Linked DNA regions of Homo sapiens. The protein of the gene in region 2 purifies or fractionates together with the protein of the main gene of each other region. This does not show direct contact. Each region holds a gene or a part of one and is shown on either strand. Other genes may lie near its edges.

The links. The genes of interacting proteins can lie anywhere in the genome.
Region 1: the proteins of RRP1B (region 2) and DDX21 purify together in Homo sapiens (affinity purification with mass spectrometry; 3 studies listed by BioGRID and IntAct, with this or other methods). This does not show direct contact.
Region 3: the proteins of RRP1B (region 2) and SRSF6 purify together in Homo sapiens (affinity purification with mass spectrometry; 3 studies listed by BioGRID and IntAct, with this or other methods). This does not show direct contact.

What each region holds. Positions count from the first base shown.
Region 1 is NC_000010.11:68,951,206-68,959,169, reverse strand, and holds the start of DDX21 (nucleolar RNA helicase 2), read right to left. Parts: upstream 3,001-7,964; 5' UTR 2,945-3,000; coding exon 2,858-2,944; intron 2,524-2,857; exon of another isoform or gene 2,422-2,523; intron 1-2,421.
Region 2 is NC_000021.9:43,683,240-43,690,990, forward strand, and holds part of RRP1B (ribosomal RNA processing protein 1 homolog B), read left to right. Parts: intron 1-39; coding exon 40-134; intron 135-1,313; coding exon 1,314-1,411; intron 1,412-2,530; coding exon 2,531-2,550; intron 2,551-3,564; coding exon 3,565-3,696; intron 3,697-4,276; coding exon 4,277-5,001; intron 5,002-7,048; coding exon 7,049-7,201; intron 7,202-7,751. UniProt on the Homo sapiens protein: Positively regulates DNA damage-induced apoptosis by acting as a transcriptional coactivator of proapoptotic target genes of the transcriptional activator E2F1.
Region 3 is NC_000020.11:43,453,860-43,460,895, reverse strand, and holds the start of SRSF6 (serine/arginine-rich splicing factor 6), read right to left. Parts: upstream 3,001-7,036; 5' UTR 2,863-3,000; coding exon 2,756-2,862; intron 2,536-2,755; coding exon 2,387-2,535; intron 1,744-2,386; coding exon of another isoform or gene 1,592-1,743; exon of another isoform or gene 1,359-1,591; intron 1,126-1,358; coding exon 1,001-1,125; intron 864-1,000; coding exon 655-863; intron 382-654; coding exon 298-381; intron 194-297; coding exon 1-193. UniProt on the Homo sapiens protein: Plays a role in constitutive splicing and modulates the selection of alternative splice sites. Plays a role in the alternative splicing of MAPT/Tau exon 10. Binds to alternative exons of TNC pre-mRNA and promotes the expression of alternatively spliced TNC.

The sequences.
Region 1 (7,964 bases), on a different chromosome or scaffold from region 2:
TCCAACAGGCTCCAAACTCAATACTATAAAAAGTCCAAATTCAATTCCAATAGAATAAGGCAAATGTATCTACAGATTGATGATGTTAAGCAGGTTTCTTTTCTTTCTTCCTGCTAAAATCCCAGGTAAAACAACAGGGATTTTTTTTGTTTTTTTAAGAGACAATTTCACTTTTTCACCCAGGTTGTGGTACAGAGGCATGATCATAGCTCACTGCAGCCTCTAACTCCAAAACAGGAATTCTGCACTTTGCCTATCTTACAAGAGCAAATGAATTTATACAAAGACAGTTTAGGGCCAGGTGCAGTGGTTCATGCCTGTAATCTCAGCACTCTGGGAGGCCAAGGCAGGAGGATTGTTTGAGGCCAGCAGTTCCAGGCAAGCATGGACAATATAGCGAGACCCCGTCTCTATTGAAAAAGTTTAAAATTTAGGCTGGGCGCGGTGGCTCATGCCTATAATCTCAGGACTTTGGGAGGCCAAGGAGGGCGAATCACGAGGTCAGGAGAAGGAGACCATCCTGGCTAACACAGTGAAATCTCATCTCTACTAAAAGTACAAAAAAATTAGCCAGGCATGGTGGCACGCACCTGTAGTCCCAGCTACTCGGGAGGCTGAGGCAGGAGAACTGCTTGAACCCGGGAGGCGGGGGTTGCAGTGAGCTGAGATCATGCCACTGCACTCCAGCCTGGGCGACACAGCAAGACTGTCTCAAAAAAAAAAATTTTTTTTTTAATTAGCCAGGTGTAGCAGCACACCTATACTCCTAGCTACTTAGGAGGCTGAGGTGGGAGGATTGCTTGAGCCCAGGAATTCAAGACTGCAGTCAGCTATAATCATGCCACTGCACTCTAGCTTGGGTGACAGTAAGACTCTGTCTCTACAAAAAATAAAAGGGCAGGATGCAGTGGCTCACACCTGTAATCCCAGCACTTTGGGAGGCCGAGGTGGGCGGATCACCTGAGGCTGGGAGTTTGAAACCAACCTGACCAACATGGAGAACAAGCCTGGGCAACGACAGCAAAACTCCATCTCAAAAAATAATAATAATAAAATAAAGAGACACTTTATGAAACAAAAAGTTATAAAAACTCACAGTCTATCACTCATGTGTAAAAAAGATGTACTTAATTTAAAATAAAATAAATAAGTTACAAGAATATGGAAGGAGTGACACCTTAGAACCAAGTAAGACAGATGACTGTGGCTCCTATTTGAACTTTCTGACCCTCTACAACTTTTCATACTACTGAAAACAATTAGACATGTGTTGTAGCCTCCTTAGAAGCCTGTTCTGGCAGAGCCCCAGAACAATGTTGGAAGTACATATTACGCTGAATTCTGCCTCCCGGAAATTTCAGGCCTGGTCTCTGTTCTCAAATCATAGATTAAGAATAATCTCCTAGCCAACAAAAAACAAGCTAGTCTCCTTCCAAAATTTTATTCGTTTTCATCCCTTGGTTCCACCAAATAAGACTGAGTTTCCCATCCTGGTGGTCTCTTTTGGAATATAACAGAGTTTGGTCATGTACCTCTGGATTTGAGCATGCCAAATTGAACGCAATTGACTGATGCAATGTAAACCAGGACCACGACCTTCTTGCACCTGAGTACAAATCTGCCGCGGCTTCCTACAATTCTAAAATATTGCTATTGTAAGAACTCCATATCAAAAGACAGAGAAACCAACAAGGAAAGTTAATTCTAAGTAGCGTACAACCTAAGTTCAAGGACAATCTTTGTTCCCACTGACTTGATCTCAGAACAGAGACTCAGTCACAAGTTAAATCACTAGGAAGCAACAGCAAAGCACCGGTCAGCTATCAAGGTTAAAACTACTGCACACTGCTGGCCTATATAAAAAATATGGTGTACACTCAGCACCGCAACACATGCCTTTACATTTCCATGGGAAATCCAGTCAACTCATGTGGGTCAAACAGTTGTAAAACAGATTTTCGTAATAACTGAATTACGTCATCTTCTCAGGGCGGCTTACCGGAAAACAAACTCTACTTCCCTTACGAGAGTTTAAAAAGTCACTAAAGACGCGGCCCACGTGCGCAGATGAAGTTAAGACCTCTCCAGTCTACTCTAAAGCTCCAGTGCCCACATTTTTTTTTTTTTTGAGATGGAGTTTCGCTCTGTTGCCCAGGCTGACGTGCAGTGGCGCGATCTCGGCTCACCACAACCTCCGCCTCCCGGGTTCAAGCAATTCTCCTGCCTCAGCCTCCCGAGTAGCTGGGACTACAGGCGCGCGCCACCATGCCCGGCTAATTTTTGTATTTTTTAGTCGAGACGGGATTTCACTATGTTGGCCAGGCTGGTCTCGAACTCCTGACCTCATGATCCGCCCGCCTCGGCCTCCCAAAGTGTTGGGATTACAGGCGTGAGCCACCGCACCCGGCCTCCAGTACCCACTTTGACTTGACGTGTAACTTCCTTCGCGCACGCTCATGCCGGGAGTTCTGTCTTAGCCAACAACGTGGAGCCTGACTGAAGGTCCAACTCTGCGCACTGTGTGAGGCGCGCCCAAGTCGCCGGGGACCACGTGGGACACCCGGCCCTCTCCCGAGCTCCAACAGGGCCTCTCTACCAGAGTTCCGACCTGTGGATGCCTATAAGCTCAGAGGAAGAGGTCAGCGCACGGCGGACCTGGCTCGGTCGGGCAAACGACGCGTCCACTGCCCGGGGAGCGCACCACTCCTGGGCGACCGCCCGCCAAGACCCACGCCCGGTGTCTGGACGCGCTGTTATCCGCCGCGCGCTCCCACGATCCCAGCCCGGGCACTTCTCCCGCACCCCGGGGTTCCGCTCCATTCAGCGTCCCTCCTGGCCCCAGGTCCCTCCGTTTCACCTCCTCGGTTTGCTTTCGCAGTGTCTCCCCTTTTTTCATTGCGGTGTCTGATTCCAAACCAGCGTCACTACGGAGTTTTCCCGGCATCTTCAGCGCAGGTTGCCCAGGCCGACCGGTCTTCTCAACCGCGTGGAGAGGAAGAGGTAGTTCCCCACCCTGGGTCCACCCGGCTCTCGTCACTTCCCGTAGCAAGGCACTTCCGGGGGAAGCAGGAAGCACAGGAAAAGCTGCTTTCCGCGTGGTAAATTCAAAGCAGCGGCCTGTGACTGTGGTTGGATTTAGTGAATTGACCACTTGCGGCCCTTGGTCTAGAAGGCACCTACGGAACGGTAGAACCGCAAGGAATTGCAAAGGTTAGCTTTGTATTCTTCAACACTGGCCAGATTTTCCCTAGCCCCAGCCTGATAAATGAAGGCTTCTAGTTGCTTTTGAGTGGCGCCATCTTCAGTGCTTTATGTTGTATTGCTCGAGTTTGCACGTACAGACGCGCGGATGTGTGTCCTTAATCATCTCTTGGAAACGTCTACTCTGAAAGTGTCGACCAGACTCAGGAGCCTGAAGAAAAAAAATAATTCAGTCGGGTCTGGTCGTTCATTCATGCGAGCACTCAAACATCTTATGAGCGTTCACTGTGTCAGGTAGGAGAAACAGGACTAGTATTCACTAACAAGCACAAAAGCCTTATCGTCAAGAAGCTTTATAGACTAGCGGGAGAGAGAGGTCTTGTGGGTTTGAGACAGAGTCTCGCTCTGTCATCCAGACTGGAGAGTGCCATGGCGTGACCTGGGCTCACTGCAACCTCTGCCTCCCGAGCTCAAGCGAATCTCCTGCCTCAGCCTCCAAAGAAGCCAGGACTTAAAGACTAGCCCTGGCGACACAGCAAAACCCCTATGTCTATATATCTATATATACACACACATATATAATATATAAATAAAATATTTCATATATATAAAAGAAAAAATAAATTTCAAAAATGGGATAGAATAATATCTGACATTGAAAATCGGCCTTTTTGTTTTTTTGAGACGGAGTCTCGCTCTGTTGCCCAAGCTGGATGAAGTGGCGCTATCTCAGCTCATTGCAACCTCTGCCTCCAGCGATTCTCATCCTTCAGCCTCCCGAGTAGCTGGGATTACAGGCCTGCACCACGACACCCAGCTAATTTTTGTATTTTTAGTAGAGATGGGGCTTCACCATCTTCACCAGGCTGGTCTCGAACTCCTGACTTCAGGTTATCCACCCATCCGCCTCAGCGTTCCAAAGTGCTGGGACTATAGGCATGAGCCACAGCGCCCAGTCTTTATCTATTTCATTTTTTTGAGACAGGTTCTCCCTCTGTTGCCCAGGCTGGAGTGGAGTGTAATGGCGTGATCATGGCTCATTGCAGCCTCGACCTCCCAGAGTCAAACGATCCTCCCACCTCAGTCTCCCGAGTAGCTGGGACTACAGGCATGTGCCACCCTGCCTGGCTAATTTTTTAATTTTTTTTTTTTTTGTAGAGACGGAGTTTTGCCATGTTGCCCAGGCTGGTTTTGAACTCCTGAGCTCAAGTGATCTTCCCACCTCCGCCTCCCAAAGTACTGGGATTACAGGCAGGAGCCACCATACCCAGTCTGCTCTGTTATTTTTGGAAACATTACCTTATCTGAACCCAAGTTTCCCTTGTATGAAATGAGGATAACAAAACCTACTTCATCAATTGAGAAAATTAAATAAGATAATGGCAGAAAATGGTCTGGCAGTGCCTGACACACAGAGCACAATCAATGAAAACTATTAAAACTTAGTGTGTCACAAGGATTTGAAAACACAATTTAAAATATTACATTTTATGATAAAGGAAAATGCTGGAAAAGTATTTCTGTATTTCTGATTACTGCACTTTTTTTTTTTTTGGAGACAGTCTCACTCTGTGGCCCAGGCTGGAGTGCAGTGGCGTGATCTCAGCTCACTGCAAGCTCTGCCTCCCGGGTTCACGCCATTCTCCTGCCTCAGCCTCCCAAGTAGCTGGGACTACAGGCGCCCACCACCACACCCGGCTAATTTTTTGTATTTTTAGTAGAGACGGGGTTTCACCGTGTTAGCCAGGATGGTCTCGATCTCCTGACCTCACGATCCTCCCGCCTCGGCCTCCCAAAGTGCTGGGATTATAGGCTCGAGCCACTGTGCCTGGTCTACTGCACATTTTTTAATCTGAGAGTTTCAAGGAAAAATTTTGTTTCACCTAAACTATTATTTGATGTTTCGTGGTCTCAATTTTTTTTTTTTTTTTTTTGAGACAGAGTCTCACTCTGTTGCCCAGGCTGGAGTGCAGTGGCGCGATCTCAGCTCACTGCAACCTCCGCCTCCCAGGTTCAAGCAATTCTCCTGCCTCAGCCTCCTCAGTAGCTGGGATTACAGGCGCCTGCCCCCACACCCGGCTAATTTTTCTATTTTTAGTAGAGACAAGGTTTCACCATCTTAGCCAGGCTGGTCTCGAACTCCTGACCTCAGGTGGTCCACCTGCCTTGGCCTCCCAAAGGGCTGGGATTACAGGTGTGAGCCACCACGCCCAGCCATGGTCTCAAATTTTTTTAACAATTTGTGAAAATGTGCAACAGTGCTTTAACTTATATTCTGATATCCCTGAGCCAGGAGCCTTGATTTATTCATCTTTGTGTCCTCAAAATTTCAGACAGTGCCTGGTACATAGTAATCTGTAATTAAGTGTTTAATGAATGTTAACATGGCAGTGGTGGAGGGGAACCCCTTGAAATAAATTTTAGCTATATGCCCAGGTACGAAAGTACCTGAGTCATCCTGGTGTTAGATGTGGAAGAAAGGAGAGCAAGCATGAATGCAGTCAACTAATTGGCCAACAAAATGCTTAACATCTCTGGTTTCACCATTGTATCATGTAGTTTAGATACTAAGTGGAGGCCCAGTCCCCACCTCAAAGAACCTGCAGTCTGGTTGACAAACCACAACACTACATGATCCTGCTATATACATGATACTACTGCATACAGTACAGGGACATGTTTATTATCAAGAGATATTCAACAAGAGAGTAAGCCCCAGAATGGTACTAAATGGAAAACTTTTCAAAGCTTCTAAAATAAGTTCCTTTGTAACCTGCATATAGGGACAAACCCAAATTTCCACCAGGAAACATGCAAAAGGCCCATTTGACAAAAGGTAGCCAATTAATTATCTTGTCATCAGTATAAAATTCAATAACAAGACGAAGAATAGCTTACATAAATTTGATAGGAGCTGGATATGGTGGTGCACACCTGTAGTCCCAGCTACTTGGGAGGCTGAAGCACAAGAATTGCTTGAACCTGGGAGGCGGAGGTTGCAGTGAGCCAAGATTGCACCACTGCACTCCAGCCTGGGTGACAGAGCAAGACCCTATCTCCAAAAAAAAAAAAAAAAAAAGAGGAAAAATTTGATAGGAAATGTTGAATATCCTTGAATGCTTAAATATCAATATTTTGCCAGGCCTATTTCCTCTGATCTGGATGATGTAATGTTTTCACAAAATTAGAGGGAGAATTTGTATTTTTAAAAGCATGTATACACACACACACAACGAATTCAAAAGTCTACAAAATAAAATGTTAGCAGTCATTCTTTCTGAGTAATGTGACTGTGGGTGGTTTTTATAGTCTTCCATTTGCTTCTCTACTTTTTTAGATTCCCAACAATGGACATGTATCTTTTTTTTTTTTGAGGCGAAGTCTCACTCTGTCGTCCAGGCTGGAGTACAGTGGCGCGATCTTGGCTCACTGTAACCTCCACCTGCTGAGTTCAAGCAATTCTCCTGCCTCAGCCTCCCAAGTTGCTGAGATTACAGGCGCCTGCCACCATGCCCAGCTAATTTTTGTCTTTTTAGTAGAGATGGGGTTTCACCATGTTGCCCAGGCTGGTCTCAAACTCCCGACCTTCAGTGATCCACCTGTCTCAGCCTCCCAAGTGTTGGGATTACAGGCGTGAGTCACTGCGCCCTGCCTGACATGTATACTTATAAGGAAAAAAAAAAGGAATATGGTTTTTAAAAACTACTGTTAAGCACTATCCCCAAAATACAGGAAACAAAAACAATGTGAGAGAAGACTCTCAAGATATTTAAACCTAAAAGTGAATTCATAATTCTAAAGCTGGAGAGAATAAAGCAGATGTTATTTCATTTATAAATTCAAAAACTGAAGATCAGAGTAACTGATTCTAGTTCAAATAGCTGTTAAATGACTAGAGCACAGAGTACCAAACAGGAGGCCAAAAGCCAAAAAAAGGGAGCCATGAAGGTACTGGCTTCTAAAAGGAAGAAGAGTAAAGATACCAGTGGCCGAGTGCAGCCCAAAGCTGAGAATTTGATGAGAAATTTGCCTGGCCCCATCCTACTTTCAAAACATGTGGAAAGCTATTATTTAATTTTGTTAGGACCCTTGCTAATAGGGCATCTGACCTTTAGCAGGTAGACTCTCTTAAACCCATCCACCCTGTTGGCATTTACCTATATACTTATCTTTTTCACTCTTCCCTGAAACCCTCCAACAGCTATCCAAAACAAGACCTACAAAGCCCTCCAAGATATAACACATCTTGCCTTGTTCTCACCATTGCCTTCCTCACAGTCACGATCCCAGCAACAAGAGCTACTCATAGTTCCCCATACTTAAGACCATGTTGTTTCATCAGCTTTTCTGTGCCTTTGCTTGGATGCAAGGTTTCCTGTTTCTTTTACCTACTTAACGCTCAGCCATCACGTCTAAAAAGCCTTCCCTGAACCCCCACTCCCATTCCAGGGCCAGGTGCCCTTGCTCAGTGTTCACAAATCATTGTAGTTAGTCATTCCCATGGACATAGGTTTATTTGTCCACTTATTTCACTAGATTCTGAGCTCCAGAGTAGAGACTAGGCACTGCTTATTAACCCAAAACATATTGCCTGGGACACTGTAGTCACACAACATATTCTGACTGAACATAGTAGTACTCATGCAACTTAATATGAATGGAGCCCCTGTTTCATCTTGGTTATACTACAACTCAGTTGCTCAAATGCAAAGCAGACTGAGATTTTCCCCCCAGTTGTGTCTGTCTGTAACACTAGCCCCCCA
Region 2 (7,751 bases):
GATATGTCAATAATTTGGTCTTTGGGTATATTTTGACAGCACTGGGCAAAAACCATTCCAGAAAAGATGGACTCAGTGATGAAAGAGGAAGAGATGACTGTGGAACCTTTGAGGACACAGGGCCCCTTCTCCAGGTGGGTAGCAGTTGTTGCTTTTTATAGAATATAGATTTGCTGTGGAGTAGCCTGACTAGAGAATTAGGGTCACAGCTAGTTAAGCTATAAGGCCTGAAGCGTAAACTCCTTTTTAATCCCTTCAGTCACTAAATGTCACCTTCTGAAGAATAACCTTATTGGAGACAAGGAAATGTAAATATGATGGAGTTTTGAAAGAGATAGTAGCACTTATTTTGAATGGCTAAGCTCTCCTCTGTTCTCTACCACAGAGCCAGCTCTAGTGGCACTTTTCAAATAAAAAAAAGTTTGCCAAGTACAGATTGCAAATCTAGATTAAATTTAAAATTTAATTACAAGCTCACGCCTGTAATCCCAGCACTTTGGGAGGCCCAGGCGGGCAGATCACCTGAGGTCAAGAGTTCGAGACCAGCCTGGCCAACACAGTGAAACCCGTCTCTACTAAAAATACAAAAATTAGCCCGACACCGTGGCGCACGCCTGTAATCCCAGCTACTCGGGAGGCTGAGGCAGGAAAATCATTTGAACCCGGGAGGTGGAGGTTGCAGTGAACTGAGATCATGCCACTGCACTCCAGCCTGGGTGACAGACTCTGGCTCAAAAAAAAAAAAAAAAAAGCACACCCAGGTAAATTTTGTTGTGGGTACTCTATCACAATTTTTTTTTTTTAAGAATTGCTTACCCAGCTTTTCCCAAGAATAATTTTTTTTTTTTTTGAGACAGAGTCGCACTCTGTCTCCCAGGCTGGAGTGCGGTGGCTCGATCTCGGCTCACTGCAAGCTCTGCCTCCTGAGTTCACGCCATTCTCCTGCCTCAGCCTCCCGAGTAGCTGGGACTACAGGCGCCCGCCATCACGCCCGGCTAATATTTTGTATTTTTAGTAGAGACGGGGTTTTGCCGTGTTAGCCAGGATGGTCTCGATGTCCTGACCTTGTGATCCACCCGCCTCAGCCTCCCAAAGTGCTGGGATTACAGGCATGAGCCACCGCGCCCGGCCTGAACATGCATTTTTCAAAGGTAGTGCTTGTGCTCCTGGTTGCCAAGTCCCAGCACAAGCTTGTTTAGCCTATCTGTTGCCAAATGCTTCAGTAAGGGTTTCTCTTACTAGCAGATGTAAATGGCCAAGTCAGGCAGTGTTGTTTGGCTGCAGACTTATGTTTAGTTTCTCTTCCTGCCTAGTTTGACTATAAGGCTGTTGCTGATCGACTCCTGGAAATGACCAGCAGGAAGAACACGCCCCACTTCAACAGGAAGCGCCTCTCCAAACTCATCAAGAAGTCAGTAACTGGGGAGAGGGTTCTGACATCATCATTCCTTTAGTTCTCATCTCCTGGTGTGGGACAAGCCATCTGCATGCTTATCTTTTTTCTTTCTTCTTTTTTTGTCCTTTAATGCTTTTGTGTATAGCAATGTAATAGACACATGTAAACTGAAAAGCTTAATGGAAACAGCAGTCCCACCCCTCAGGTTCCATTCTTCCAGTGCAGCCATACTCATCTCTTAGCTGCTTTAGAATGATGTGAAGTCTATTCATGTCTAAAATGAACCAACCAGAAACTGATGTGAATCTGCTATTTAGGTGTCTTCTGCTGGTGTGCTGCTGAGATAGATAGGGTTAATTCTTTACCTCTCCCCTCCCTCCCATATGGCTATGCCAAAAGTGTTAGTTAATTCAGCTGTCAGTGTTGATGTCACTCTGACCATAGTGACATGATGACCTGGAATTCATGGAGGGCCTCGTGTGGCTTGCTGTCATTGGTGACAACAACTGTCTGATCACACTCTAGGAGCCGGGCACTGCTCTGAGCACTTTGTATACATTCAAGTATTCCATGTTAAGCCCCCAGAAAGTAGCTCCTGTAGTTTTGCCCATTTCCCAGCTGGTTCTTAGGGCACAGGATGGTCCTAGCTTGCCTGAGGTCCCTGCCATCCAGTGTCTCCTCCCCCATGCACCTCCCCACACTGCGCTTCGATGCGTCTTGTTTGTTCTAATGCACAAAAATTGTGTGAAGCAAAACATGGCTTCGCCTTTCTCCACTGGAGAATTGAATATGAGAGAGATCTAAGCTATTTCTGCCTTCAGAAACAAAAATTGAATTTCTTAGTTTGATTTGGGTGTGCCAAGATGCATCTTTGGCCCGCCGTGTCCTTGCTGGTATTGATGGTAACCGAGGGCGGCACTGGCCTTGAGCTTTTTGGCTTTTGTATTGCACCACCCTTCCCTCACAGAATTTCCTGTCTAGCCTCCCCTCCTGGAGGAGAACGTGAATTAACAACTATTTAACTATGGCTTGTATTTTAAAAATCAAATACATATGTCTACAGAAGACAGAAGGGATTTCTTTATGAACATTTGTTATTTTTTTATTTTTTATTTTTTATTTTTTTATTTTTAGATTCCAAGACCTTTCTGAAGGTGAGGCGCGCCAAGAATCATCATTCATGGTGTTTTTCGTGAATATGGACCCCACTGGGGGCGTTGATGCCAAACGCTGAGAAACAAGATTGAAAGAACTTTACTGAAAACCTCTGATAAGAAATAATAGTCCCTAGCCCAGGCAAAATAGCAAGGCCACATCTCTACTAAAAATGAAAAAATTAGCCAGGCGTGGTGGCGTGATCCTGTAGTCCCAGTCACTTGGGAGTCTAAGAGGGGAGGATCGCTTGAGCCCAGGAGGTCCAGGATGCAGTAAGTTGTAATCACACCACTGCACTCCAGCCTGGGTGACACAACAAGACCCCAACTTTTAAGAAAGACAGACCAGCCCTTACCTAGTCATACCGCAGTACAGCGTGGGAAGTGATGCAAGCCTAGGGCTCCCTGCAGCCTGCCCACCTTCCTATCCTGGGCTCTCCCTAACCACCAAAGCAAGAGGGCAGACTGCTCTCATGTGTGGGTACTGCGATGTTTTGGTTTGGTTTTTATTATTTTAACTAGATGGATTTTCAATGGCCTAGGAAGGTTTTAATTGGATACTCTATGAAGGTAAAAAATGTAATTTCTCAGGATCCCTTTCATTTGCTCTTATGGTCAATGGTCCCCCCGGGAAAGGCTGATGCTGTAAGCTTTGTTACATTTGGACAAGTCAGTGAAGTTACCCCATACCCGTCATTCACTAGGGACACTTGGAATTGGGAAAGGCACCAGCAAGCTGGTTGGAATGCAGAGACTGCATTAGCCAAGCGTCCGGGGTCCAGCCATGGAGGGTGTCACCGAGGGCTTGTGATCCCTTGCCTTGCCTTGGTTGAGAAATCCACAAAGCTTTTTTAAGTCTGTAATTCCTGTGTCAGCAGCGCTCAGGTTTGGGTGGGAGAAACGGTGAGGAACGATGATGATGAGGCAGAAATTGGGAGGGGTGCTGCTCTTAGGCCCCTGGGGCAGAGTCTTGAGCGCCTGGGGAAGCTAACAGTGTGTCACTCTGGCATCTAGGAAGCAGTATATCTCAACTCAGTTTTGCGGAGGACATTTCTGCTGATGAAGATGACCAAATCCTCAGTCAAGGAAAGCATAAGAAGAAAGGAAATAAACTTTTAGAGAAAACTAACTTGGAAAAGGAGAAAGGTAAGCTGTAAAGCTAAAAAGAAGGGCACGACTCAGCCCTTGGGGAGCGGCATGCACCATGGAGGCCTCGGAGACTTGAGCTCGTGCCGTCATAAAGCATTAGCAGAGCCCAAAGCTTCAGTCTTTAATGGCTGAGAGGTAAAGGCGGTTTTCCAAGTGTTGTGCTGTTTTTGGTGGAGCCGCGTCCCCACCTCACCCCGCTCACGTCCGCCTGCTCTCCAGGGCACCTCTGCAGGGAAGCAGGAGCTGCAGGGAGCACTGGGGGGCGGCTGTTTGATGACCACTCGAGATCTATGGTTTTTACCCTTGAGCCCTAAAATTAGTGGAAATGGGACTATTTCAGTTCCATATGTGTTTATAAACGGACAGAAGGAAGGCTTCCAGTCACAGTTGGGGATGGAGGAAGTGGGACCAGACGACAAAGGTAGTGGGCGCACCAAGTACCTCAAGGGAGACAGGAACTTTCCTCGTGGTAGAATGTCAGGAAATTGCGTCCGCCAGTCATACTGTCTGAGAATCGCCAGCAGGACTCTGGCCCAGCTGGCACTGGGTGCTTGTTGATGGGTTTCTGTCTTTTTAGGAAGCAGAGTCTTTTGTGTAGAGGAAGAGGACAGTGAAAGCAGTCTTCAAAAGAGAAGAAGGAAGAAGAAGAAGAAGCACCACCTGCAGCCTGAAAATCCAGGCCCAGGGGGTGCAGCCCCATCCCTGGAACAGAACCGGGGCAGGGAGCCCGAGGCCTCTGGGCTGAAAGCCCTGAAGGCACGTGTGGCCGAGCCAGGTGCAGAGGCCACGTCCAGCACTGGGGAGGAGAGTGGCTCCGAGCATCCTCCAGCCGTCCCCATGCACAATAAAAGGAAACGGCCACGGAAGAAGAGCCCGAGGGCCCACAGGGAAATGTTGGAATCAGCAGTGTTGCCCCCAGAGGACATGTCTCAGAGTGGCCCGAGTGGCAGTCATCCTCAGGGACCTAGAGGGTCCCCGACAGGTGGAGCCCAACTCCTAAAAAGGAAGCGGAAACTTGGAGTTGTGCCCGTCAATGGCAGTGGCCTGTCCACGCCGGCCTGGCCTCCATTGCAGCAGGAAGGCCCTCCCACAGGCCCCGCAGAGGGGGCGAACAGCCACACCACGCTGCCCCAGCGCAGGAGGCTGCAGAAAAAGAAGGCAGGGCCCGGCAGCCTGGAGCTCTGTGGCCTGCCCAGCCAGAAAACAGCAAGTTTGAAAAAGAGGAAGAAAATGAGAGTGATGTCAAACTTGGTGGAGCACAACGGGGTGCTGGAGTCCGAAGCTGGGCAACCCCAGGCTCTGGTAAGGTGGGAGCACCCACAGGCCAGCTCGCCACAGAGGCACTCACTCGCGTCCATGGGGCTCCACTGCCTCCTGAGAGGAAGGGTGGGGGCTGGCGGCCAGGCCTCTGGACTCAGCAGCAGTTAGAATAGGGTGTGTTCATAACAGCCTTCACTAAGGAGGAAATCACAGGTGACCAGTACTTCGGTCCTCCTCATCGGCCACCTTCACTCCCTTAGGCCACATGCTTGGGTTCGGGAGGGCCCACTCCAAGCTGGGAAAGTTATCCCTTGGGCCAGGCACTCCTGCCCCAGGCGTGTTCAGGCCAGTCTAGGCCTCTGTCAAAGGCAGGTCTGGTTTTCTTCATCAGCGCATGGCCAGTCCAGGCCCCTTTGGCAAAAGAGGAAGCCCAAAATTCTCTTGCTTCACTCACCTTCTTTTCTATATTCTTTTCTTTTCTTAGCTTCCCCCCTACCCCCCAGCTCAAGAAACTTCACTAGCAGGACCACTTATCTTCTTAATGGAAAGACTTTCCTTCCACTTTGATTTCTAGAGCCAGATATAAATGAGGAACCAAGCTGTTGATCTGGTCTTGGGTCTGGCTGTGTCACCCAGGCTGGAGTGCGGTGGCACAATCTCGGCTCACTGCAACCTCCACCTCCCAGGTTCAAGCGATTCTTCTGCCTCTGCCTCCCAAGTAGCTGGAATTACAGATACACATCACCATGCCCAGCTAATTTTTGTTATTTTTGTAGAGACAGAGTTTTGCCTTGTTGCCCAGGCTGGGCTCAAGCAGTCCACCTGCCTCGGCCTCCCAAAGTGCGGGATTACAGGCGAGAGCCCCCGCGCCTGGCCCTGATCCGCTTTTCACACCACCTCTGGGCGCCCTGGGCTTCCAGGCCAGGGCCGGCAAACGTAGTGTCACTGCAACAGAGCCACATCCACTTGTATGTGCAGGTCTGTGGCCACTTTCATGCTGCAGCGGCAGAGGGGAGTGGTAGAGACAGAGACCTGCGGTCTGTAAAGCAGAAAATAACTCTGCCCTTCACAGAGTTTGCGCACCTTGGTCACCTCTTGGTTTGCACACACCGCTTTGCGGAGATTATGACATCTCTTGTTTAAGTGGACATGTGTGGACCTGGTGAAGCGCTGGTTTGGGGCTAAGAGTGTCTGCAAGTGGCTAGTGAGTGAGTTTATGGTCAGGAAAGCCTTACCCAGGGGCAGCAGTGCACTGAGCTGGACGGCAGGAGGCCCATTTCTAGCCTCGAGTCTCTCCTACCTCACAGTGCCGCCATCTCCTCCCTGGACTGCAGCCTGCCCCTCGTACCCTCAGCGCTGCTCCCTCACTAAGAGGGCCAGAGACATTGCCTTTCTTGCTGTCGTCTCAGGCCCCTGGCAGCCTATTGTAAAGAGGATGGGGTGTTGCTCAATAAGTCCCAGGGTCAAGGGAAGCTTTCCCCTGCCATCTGTCATGGCACAGGGAAGGCGCACAGGAGAAGCTCCTCGGGCTTCCCTGCCCTCCAGGCGGCACACTTGAACCTGCCGGAGCCACCCGTGTGTCGGCAGCGGCACTGGGCTGCCCACACCTCTGAGAGCCAAGTACGAGACCCGGTCTCTCTCTGGGTGGCTGTCAGTTGCTGCACACGCAATGAGTGTCCTGGGCCTGCCTGTGAGGGACCCACAGCCCCACATGGGCATCACTGTCCTCCACACCAGACTGCCAGCGCAGTGACGATTCAGCTACAAATGGGAGAGTCGATCTTATTAACAGATCGGCTTTGAAAGGCCAAAATCCCCATTTTGAAGATGAAGATAAAAGTGGGTCCTTACTCTGACGAGGCGTTTTCATCGCCCCTCTTGGCATGGTGCCATGATAGCGGTCGTGTTGTGCGTGAAGCCTGAGCTCTGCCGAATGGAAGGGCTGTCTGCAAGTGCGGTGCGGAAGACCGCGGGCCGTCGGGTGGGCTGGATCTGCCTGGGGCTCTGCCTTCCCCTCCTGTGTGTGTGGGCAGCACAGGAGGCTCTGTCGTCTGACCCCTCCTCCGCTTCTCACCCCTCGCTCACGTAGGGAAGCAGTGGGACTTGCAGTTCCCTGAAGAAGCAGAAGCTGAGGGCAGAGAGCGACTTTGTGAAGTTTGACACCCCCTTCTTACCAAAGCCCCTGTTCTTCAGAAGAGCCAAGAGCAGCACTGCCACCCACCCTCCAGGCCCTGCCGTCCAGGTACGCACCCTCCCCAGAGTGGCACAGCACATTTCACCACAAGGGCACAGATGGGCTTGAGCTGACAGTGCTTCCCATGCCGGGCCTGGAGCCCCACTGTGGCCCTCTGAGCCTGTCCACAGTGGACAGGTTCCACGGCCAGGGTAGCATAAGGTCTGAGTGGTCTGGGACCCACCCTGAGGGATCACAGTCAGGAAGGGGACTTTGAGGGGCGGTTGATCCACACATTCTGCCTCCCAGGGCTTCCGGCTCAGGGTTTGCAGAAACCAGTTTTCTCTCGTGAAATGTCACAGTGTTAAACACAAGTGGTGCAAGTCAGCAGTAGGAGGTCCACACAGAAATGTGGGTCAGAGCAGGAACTTGAGGCAGTGCTTCCTGATGCAGGCTGGATCCACTTCCAGGAATGTAAGTAGGAAAGAAGATAGTTGATTGTGGTGAACTGTTGGGATATGCAGATAGCTCAGAGTCCTTGTGCACAAAAAGCTGGAAACTGTGTGTCCATTGTCCATTGCAGTGAGATTCCATCATAGGCATCGTCTCATCGATGTCA
Region 3 (7,036 bases), on a different chromosome or scaffold from region 2:
TATATCACCCTTTCCATTTTCTTTAGGGGATCGGGACCGAGACCTGCTTCGAGATTTCTCATACTCATCCTTAGATCTGCTTCGAGAATGTGAATGGGAGCCCCGATCAGACTTGGGCTTAGATTTGCTCTTTGATCTAGATTTCCTGCCTTTTGATCGAGAACGTGATCGACCTTTGCTCCGCGACCTGGAACTGGACAAGGAAAGACCGATTTTCTCAATACTTAGTGAGAATGTACACATACTCCATAAACAAGTACGGTAATATTCACAGTGACTCAACACAACGTTATTTACCGGGAGCGACTTTTTGAGATACTTCGAGATCTACTGCGGCTGCTCCTGCGACTCCTACTTCGTGACCGTCTTCTAGATCGAGACCTATTAGGAGAAAAACAATGAAGTCTTAATCCCAATCCAACTTAAATACATCCGTGCCATCTGGCAAAAATAGATAAGCCAAAGAATAATGTTTTTCTTTACTACGAAATTAAATACACTGTTCAAAACATCCAGAAAAGAACGCAATGATGCACAGCCAAAACAAACTAAAAGCTGGCTTTAATTCAAGTAGGCAACAATTGACATCACTCAATTACTCCCTTTTTATTGGCAAATATTGTTTCCTTCCCACAGTGTCCTTCAACAAGTTACCTGGATCTGCTTCCAGAGTAAGATCGCCTATGGCTTGTGCGTGGCTTATCTTCAATAAGCCTAATATTTCTGCCATTTATTTCTGTGCCATCCAGTTTGTCCAAAGCACGCTTCATGTCAGAGTAGGAGCGAAACTCAATTACACCCTCATTTGTTCGTTCCTTGTGGGCATCCGCATAGGTTACTTCACCTGCTTGTCGCATAAAATCCTGAAAGACAAGATTGGTCAGACTCGGAAATCTTAAAACATCTATATACCATAATAAATTCCCAGAAATAAGAATATAAAAGGAGTTTACTTTAAAGCATTAGTCATATCATTTCTATCTTGAATTACAAAACATACCTTTAAATCTTGCCAACTGCACCGACTAGAAAGATTTTCTACAATAAGCCTGTATTCTGTACGAACAGGTGGTCCGTATTTGTCTCTGCCAGATGTTCTCCGACTGCTGTATCCACCTCCACCACCTTTATCACATGAAGGGAACAATTAGATGCCTTGTAATGATAAAAACGCATAATGTCTTTGAAAGTTAGTACAAACATATCAACTTTTATTTACTGGAGTAGGACTTTGCTATTATATTGCTAAACCTTCGACACATTTGTGATTTGCCATAAAATTAAATTAAGGGCAAGTCAAATAGACTAAATCCAACTAAACCTCTCCTACAATCTGTTAGAGAGTGACTGCTCCTTTATTCGATTTACCTCGCTAAGTTTTATTTTACAGAACATTGTAAAATATAAAACTTAACTGATTACATGCATTTCTACATTTTACAAAAATGTTTACTAGTTTTACACTAAGTACTTACATCACAGTGTGAGGTTTTTGGTGGTGGTTTGGCCACAAAACACGCAAGGTAACAGTCACCTAGTTCAGATTAACCAGTTTTGTCTAACCCTTGGAATCCTCACCATCACCCTGCGTCTAATGGCAAAAGGCTGCTGTCGTCATGGCTTCCGGTAAGGTCAGCCAAAGGGTCATAGGGCAAGGGTCACACAATGTATGGAAAAGCCAAGGCCAATCAGGAAAGGCAGTCATCTTAGCCTCAGTGGACACAGCCTCAGCCCCATTGGTCACTTTCAAATTGAAACATCAAGGACTTGTTAAAAAGTTTGAATTCAACATGCAACAATTTAAACATCAAACATTTAACATAACCAAAAATCCCCCCAACCTCCTCCCAATAACATGCCCCAATTAGTTCAAATACAGCATAAAGCTTATTTAGATCTACTTTGTGGTACAATACCACATTACTTAAAAATAGTACATTCTTTGGCCCCCATCAAGTTCCATAGCTTTAAGACCTATACTTTATGCTCCTCCCCTTCCCCGTCCCCCGCGCCCCCTACCCCACCTCCACCCGAGCCTGCCCCCGAACCTCTAACTAATGCACTGATAGGTAAGTAAGGAGAATACAACAAATACAGCCACCCCTTACTTCCTCTGTGGGAAGAACCCGTGACAGTGCTGACAAGGGGCCAGAAGAAGCCACCCACCTCCCAACTTGGCAAATAAACAAAACCAAACACCCAAACCCAATCCCCGCGCTCCGGCGTCCCATGGCTGCCCCGGGCAGACGTGAAGGCAGCGGGGCTCGGGGACACCCAAGTCAAACGACCCCCGGCCCTCGCGCCTGCCCGGGCTGGGAGGCCCCACCCCACCCACCCCCGCCCCCAGGGTCCCCAAGGGCGCGGAGCGCGCGGGGGTGGGACTCACTGCGGCTTCCGTAGCTGTAGCCGTCGCGATCGCGACGCGGGCCCCGGGCGTGCTCTACGATCACGCGCTCGCCGCAGAGCTCCTTGCCGTTCAGCTCGTAAACGGCGTCGTCGGCGTCGCGGGAGTCCTCGAACTCCACGAAGCCGTACCTAGGGGCGGTGCGAGGGCCGGACAACCGCGGGGGAGTCGTTAGCCAGGACGCGCACGTGCGCGCGCCCGTACCCCACCGCGCGCCCCCGCGACGCCGCGCCGTCGCCATCTTTGAGGCCCTGCCACGCGGCGCCGCGGCCTTGGCCGCTTCTTTCCTTGGAGAGTTCCCGCCGCCACCAGGCCTGGGACGCTGGGCGCGGGCGCCCAGGCCCGACTCACCCATTTTTGAGGTCTACTTCGAGGAGGCGGCCATAGCCACTGAAAAAGCGCTGGATGTCCTTCTCCCGGACGTTGTAGCTCAGGCGTCCTATGTAGACGCGCGGCATGTCCGTGGCGGGCGGGGACCCAAGGGCTGGTTGTCGAACGGCGGACCGCAAGCCAGTAACCGCGGTGCGGGTGCGGGGACGGCAAGAGCCCGAACACGCGCCTCACACCACAGGGGCGGCCGAGTCCAGCCACACAATGGCGCGCGCGCGCGCCAGGCTTTCGCTATATGGGCGGCCGGTGGGGCGGGGCCTGGAGCGTGATGTCAGCGCGCAGCGGCACGTCCGTCCCGCGTCGTCCCTGGGCTAGATGGTGACTGGCGAGTCCGTTGCCCGCGACGTTTCGGTGTAGTGCGGTCTTGCTAGCTTCTAGGATTTTTCTCTAGCCCTCCCCACCGTCTTTGAAAACACAATGTCTCTAATCCAGCCGCAGAACTGCTTTCTAATTTGTACCTTTTATAAAACTGTGCGCGATCTCTTCGGGGTTGAAGCTCGGGAGGCGGGCTGAGCGAATCCCCGTTTTTCATTGGTTCTCGAGGTTATCATAATAGGTCGCCGCGGTCTCTGCTTGGTGGCTTAAAACGAGGCTGCGGATTTCTCCCAGCGATTGGTTGATGCTCGTTTTGATGGGGACCGCGGTCTCGGACCCAGTCGCTTGTCTTGTTTCGCAGAATCTGAGGATCGCGCGCCGAGGTCTTGCTGACCGGGCGGAGGTCGCGTTGCGAGCGCGCAGACCCGCCGACATCAGCCTCTCCGGGTCTCACTCGCAGCCTTCGCCTCCCCGGACGTTCCCCTCTCCCTCCATGGGTCTTTCTTGGAGCCCTGGCAGCTTGACTCACTTGTGGATTGGGCTATCCGTGGCAATCCTACGCTCACTGTAGGTGCTCAAAAGGGAGCGTGGACGAGACCCGGCAGCCCTCCCACAGCGACGAACGATTTTTTTTCTCCCGTGTATGGAAAGTCCTTTGTCCCAATACTATCATTTCCTCCACTGACTTGAAAGTGCCTTATTTTGTGAGTTTATCAATGGAGATGCTATTTAAAGCTGTAGAACCAGATTGAAAACCTCAAAGGAGTAAGTTTAAGTGGAGAGCGGAAGACCCAGGCCAACGCCTGGGGTACTCTGAAATTTAAGCGCAGGAAAGGAGACTGGGAGGAGTGACTAGCGAGGTAGGGAGAAGACCAGGAGAGTAGGTGTCACCGCCGAAGCTAAAAAAAAAAAAAAAAAAAAAAAGGGATATCACTGAGATAACACCAGCTCTTTAGATATTTATGTATTCCTGCTCTGTTTTGAGTGGTGCAACCTCAATATCCTTAAGCTTCGGGTTGAAAAAGGGGGGTTTTGTCCTCCTGGAGCTATTTGGAAGTCTAGAGGGAAACGTTGTTTGTCACGACTGGGGGAGGTAGAGGCCGTGCTTAAAGTTAGATAAATAAAAAATACGAGTCTGTAATCCCCACACCTTGGGAAGCTGAGGCAAGAGGATCTCTTGAGCCCAGGTGTTCGAGGCTGCAGTGAGCTATGATCATGCCACTGCACTCCAGCCTGGGTGACAAAGCAAGACTCCAACCTGCCTGAAGGAAAGAACAAAGCTTCCGCAGCGTGGAAGGGGACCCGAGCGGGTTGCCACTGCTGGCTGGACCGCCAGTTTTTAGTCCCTTATTTGGCCCTGCCTACATCCTGCTGATTGGTCCATTTTACAGAATGTTGATTGGTCCGTTTTTACAGAGTGCTGATTGGTGTGTTTACAAACCTTTAGCTAGACAGAGAGCACTGATTGGTGTGTTTTCAATCCTTTAGCTAGACGGGAAAGTTCTCCAAGTCCCCACCCAACCCAGAAGCCCAGCCGGCTTCACCTCTTCACCTCGGTAGGCAGAATAAGGGTTCCCCCTAAAGATGTCTATGTCCTAATCCTAATCCTAATCCCTGAAACCTGTGAAGATGTTACCTTGTATGTCAAAAGGGACTTTGCAGATCTGATTAAGTTGAGCATCTTGAGATGCAGAGATGCCCCGGGATTGTCCAGGTGGGCCCCATGTGATCATAAGGGTGATTACAAGAGGGGGACAGGAGAGCCACAGTCAGAGAAGCAGATGTGACAAAGGAGGCTGGGATTGGGGTCAGAGTGATTGGCTGTAAGAAAGTCACAACCGAAGTTAATGGCTTTGAAGATGGAGGAAGGAACCATAAGCCAAAGGGTGCCAGTAGCCTCTGGAAGCTGGAAGACACGAGGGAACAGATTCGCCCCAGAGCCTCCTGAAAGAACGCAGCCCAGGCCAGGCTCTGTGGCTCACACCTGTGCCATCTCGGCTCACTGCAACCTCCGCCTCCTGGGTTCAAGTGATTCTCCTGCCTCAGCCTCCCGAGTAGCTGGGATTACAGGCATGCACCACCACGCCCAGCTAATTTTGTATTTTTAGTAGAGACGGGGTTTCACCATGTTAGGCTGGTCTCGTTTCGAACTCCCAACCTGAGGTGATCCACCCGTCTCTGCCTCCCAAAGTGCTGGGATTATAGGCGTGAGCCATTGTGCCAAGCCCAACACCAGCTCTTTGGATATTTTTGTATTCCTGCTCTGTTTTGAGTGGTGCAACCTCAATATCCTTCCGCTTCGGGTTGAAAAGGGGGGGCGGGGTTTGCCCTCCTGGAGCTATTTGGCAGTCTGGAGGGAAACGTTGTTTGTCACGACTGGGGGAGATAGAGACCGTGCTTAAAGTCAGATAAAAAATATGATTCTGTAATCCCTGCACCTTGGGAAGCTGAGGCAGGAAGATCTCTTGAGCCCAGGAGTTCGAGGCTGCAGTAAGCTATGATCATGCCACTGCACTGCAGCCTGGATGACAAAGCAAGACACTGACTCAATGAAATAAAGAAAAGCAAGGAGCAAGGCGTAGTAGCTCACGCCTGTAATCCCAGCACTTTGGGAGGCCCAGGTGAGAGGATTGCTTGAGCCCAGGAGTTCGATATCAACCTGGGCAACATGGCAAGATCCCATCTCTACAAAAAACTTTTTTTTTAAAAAATTAGCTGGGCATGGTGGCACATGCCTATAGTCACAGCTATTGGGAAGGCTCTCAACAGGGGGCAGTGGTTCTCAACAGGGGGTAGTTCTGTCCCCCCTGCGGACATCTGTCAATATCTGAAGACTTTCTGGTTGTCACAGCTGGAGGAGGGAAGGAGCTGCTCGTATCTCATGGGTAGAGGCCAGGGATGCCACGAAACATCCTGCAAGGCACAGGACAGCCCCACCACGAAGGATTATCTGGTCCCCAATGTCAATAGCTGAGGTTGAGAAGTGCTATTCCAAATGAATCCTGTACAGAAGTTTTTTTCTTTTCTTTTTTAAATAGAGGCAGGGTCTCCCTATGTTACCCAGGCTGATCTTGATCTCCTGGGCTCAAGGAGTTCAAGCCTCATCCTCCCAAAGTGCTGGGATTACAGGCATGAGCCACCATGCCCAGCCTATGGAAGTTTTTAAAACGAAGTTTGGACTAGCTTGGCAACATGCAATCCAATCTCCCAGTTGGAAGAGCCTCAGAGGATCTTTCAGTCATCTGATTCATGATTCTTTCTAACTCTGTCACTGACAGTTTCCAATTCTGGATTCTGTTCCTGGAGCAACTACTGCTATATTCACTCCACTCCATACAAATACACCTGAGTTGCTACGAGAGGGGATTTGCCGGGCACCGTGGCTCACACCTGTAATCCCATCACCTTGAGAGGCAGAGATGGGATCACTTGATCCCAGGAGCACAAGACCAGCCTGAACAACATAGCAAGACTCCATCTCTTAAAAAAAAAAAAGGCCAGTACTGGCGGCGTATACTTGTAGTCCCAGCTACTCCAGGGACTGAGGTGGGAGGATCACTTGAGCCCTGGAGGTCAAGGCTGCAGTGAGGTATGATGGCTCCACTTCACTCCAGCCTGGGTGACAGAGCAAGACTCTTGTCTAAAAAAGAAAGGAGAGAAAGGAAAGAAAGAAATAAGAAAAGATATGAGCTCCCATGCTGCACATCTACCATTTCTCCTTTGAGTTGTTCTCCCAACACATCAGCAGAGTTGGGTCCTCAGGAAGACTCCACAGAATGGTGACAATCCAGCACCTCTCTCAATTATGATATTTGAAACTGTTTTCTCTTCCGCAGCAGTGCTCTTGGGTTTTTTGTTAGGGGTAGCCACTGGGCTTTGGGAAAGAGAAGTGAGAGGAAGAGTGGATGATATCAGCTGCATCTTTCT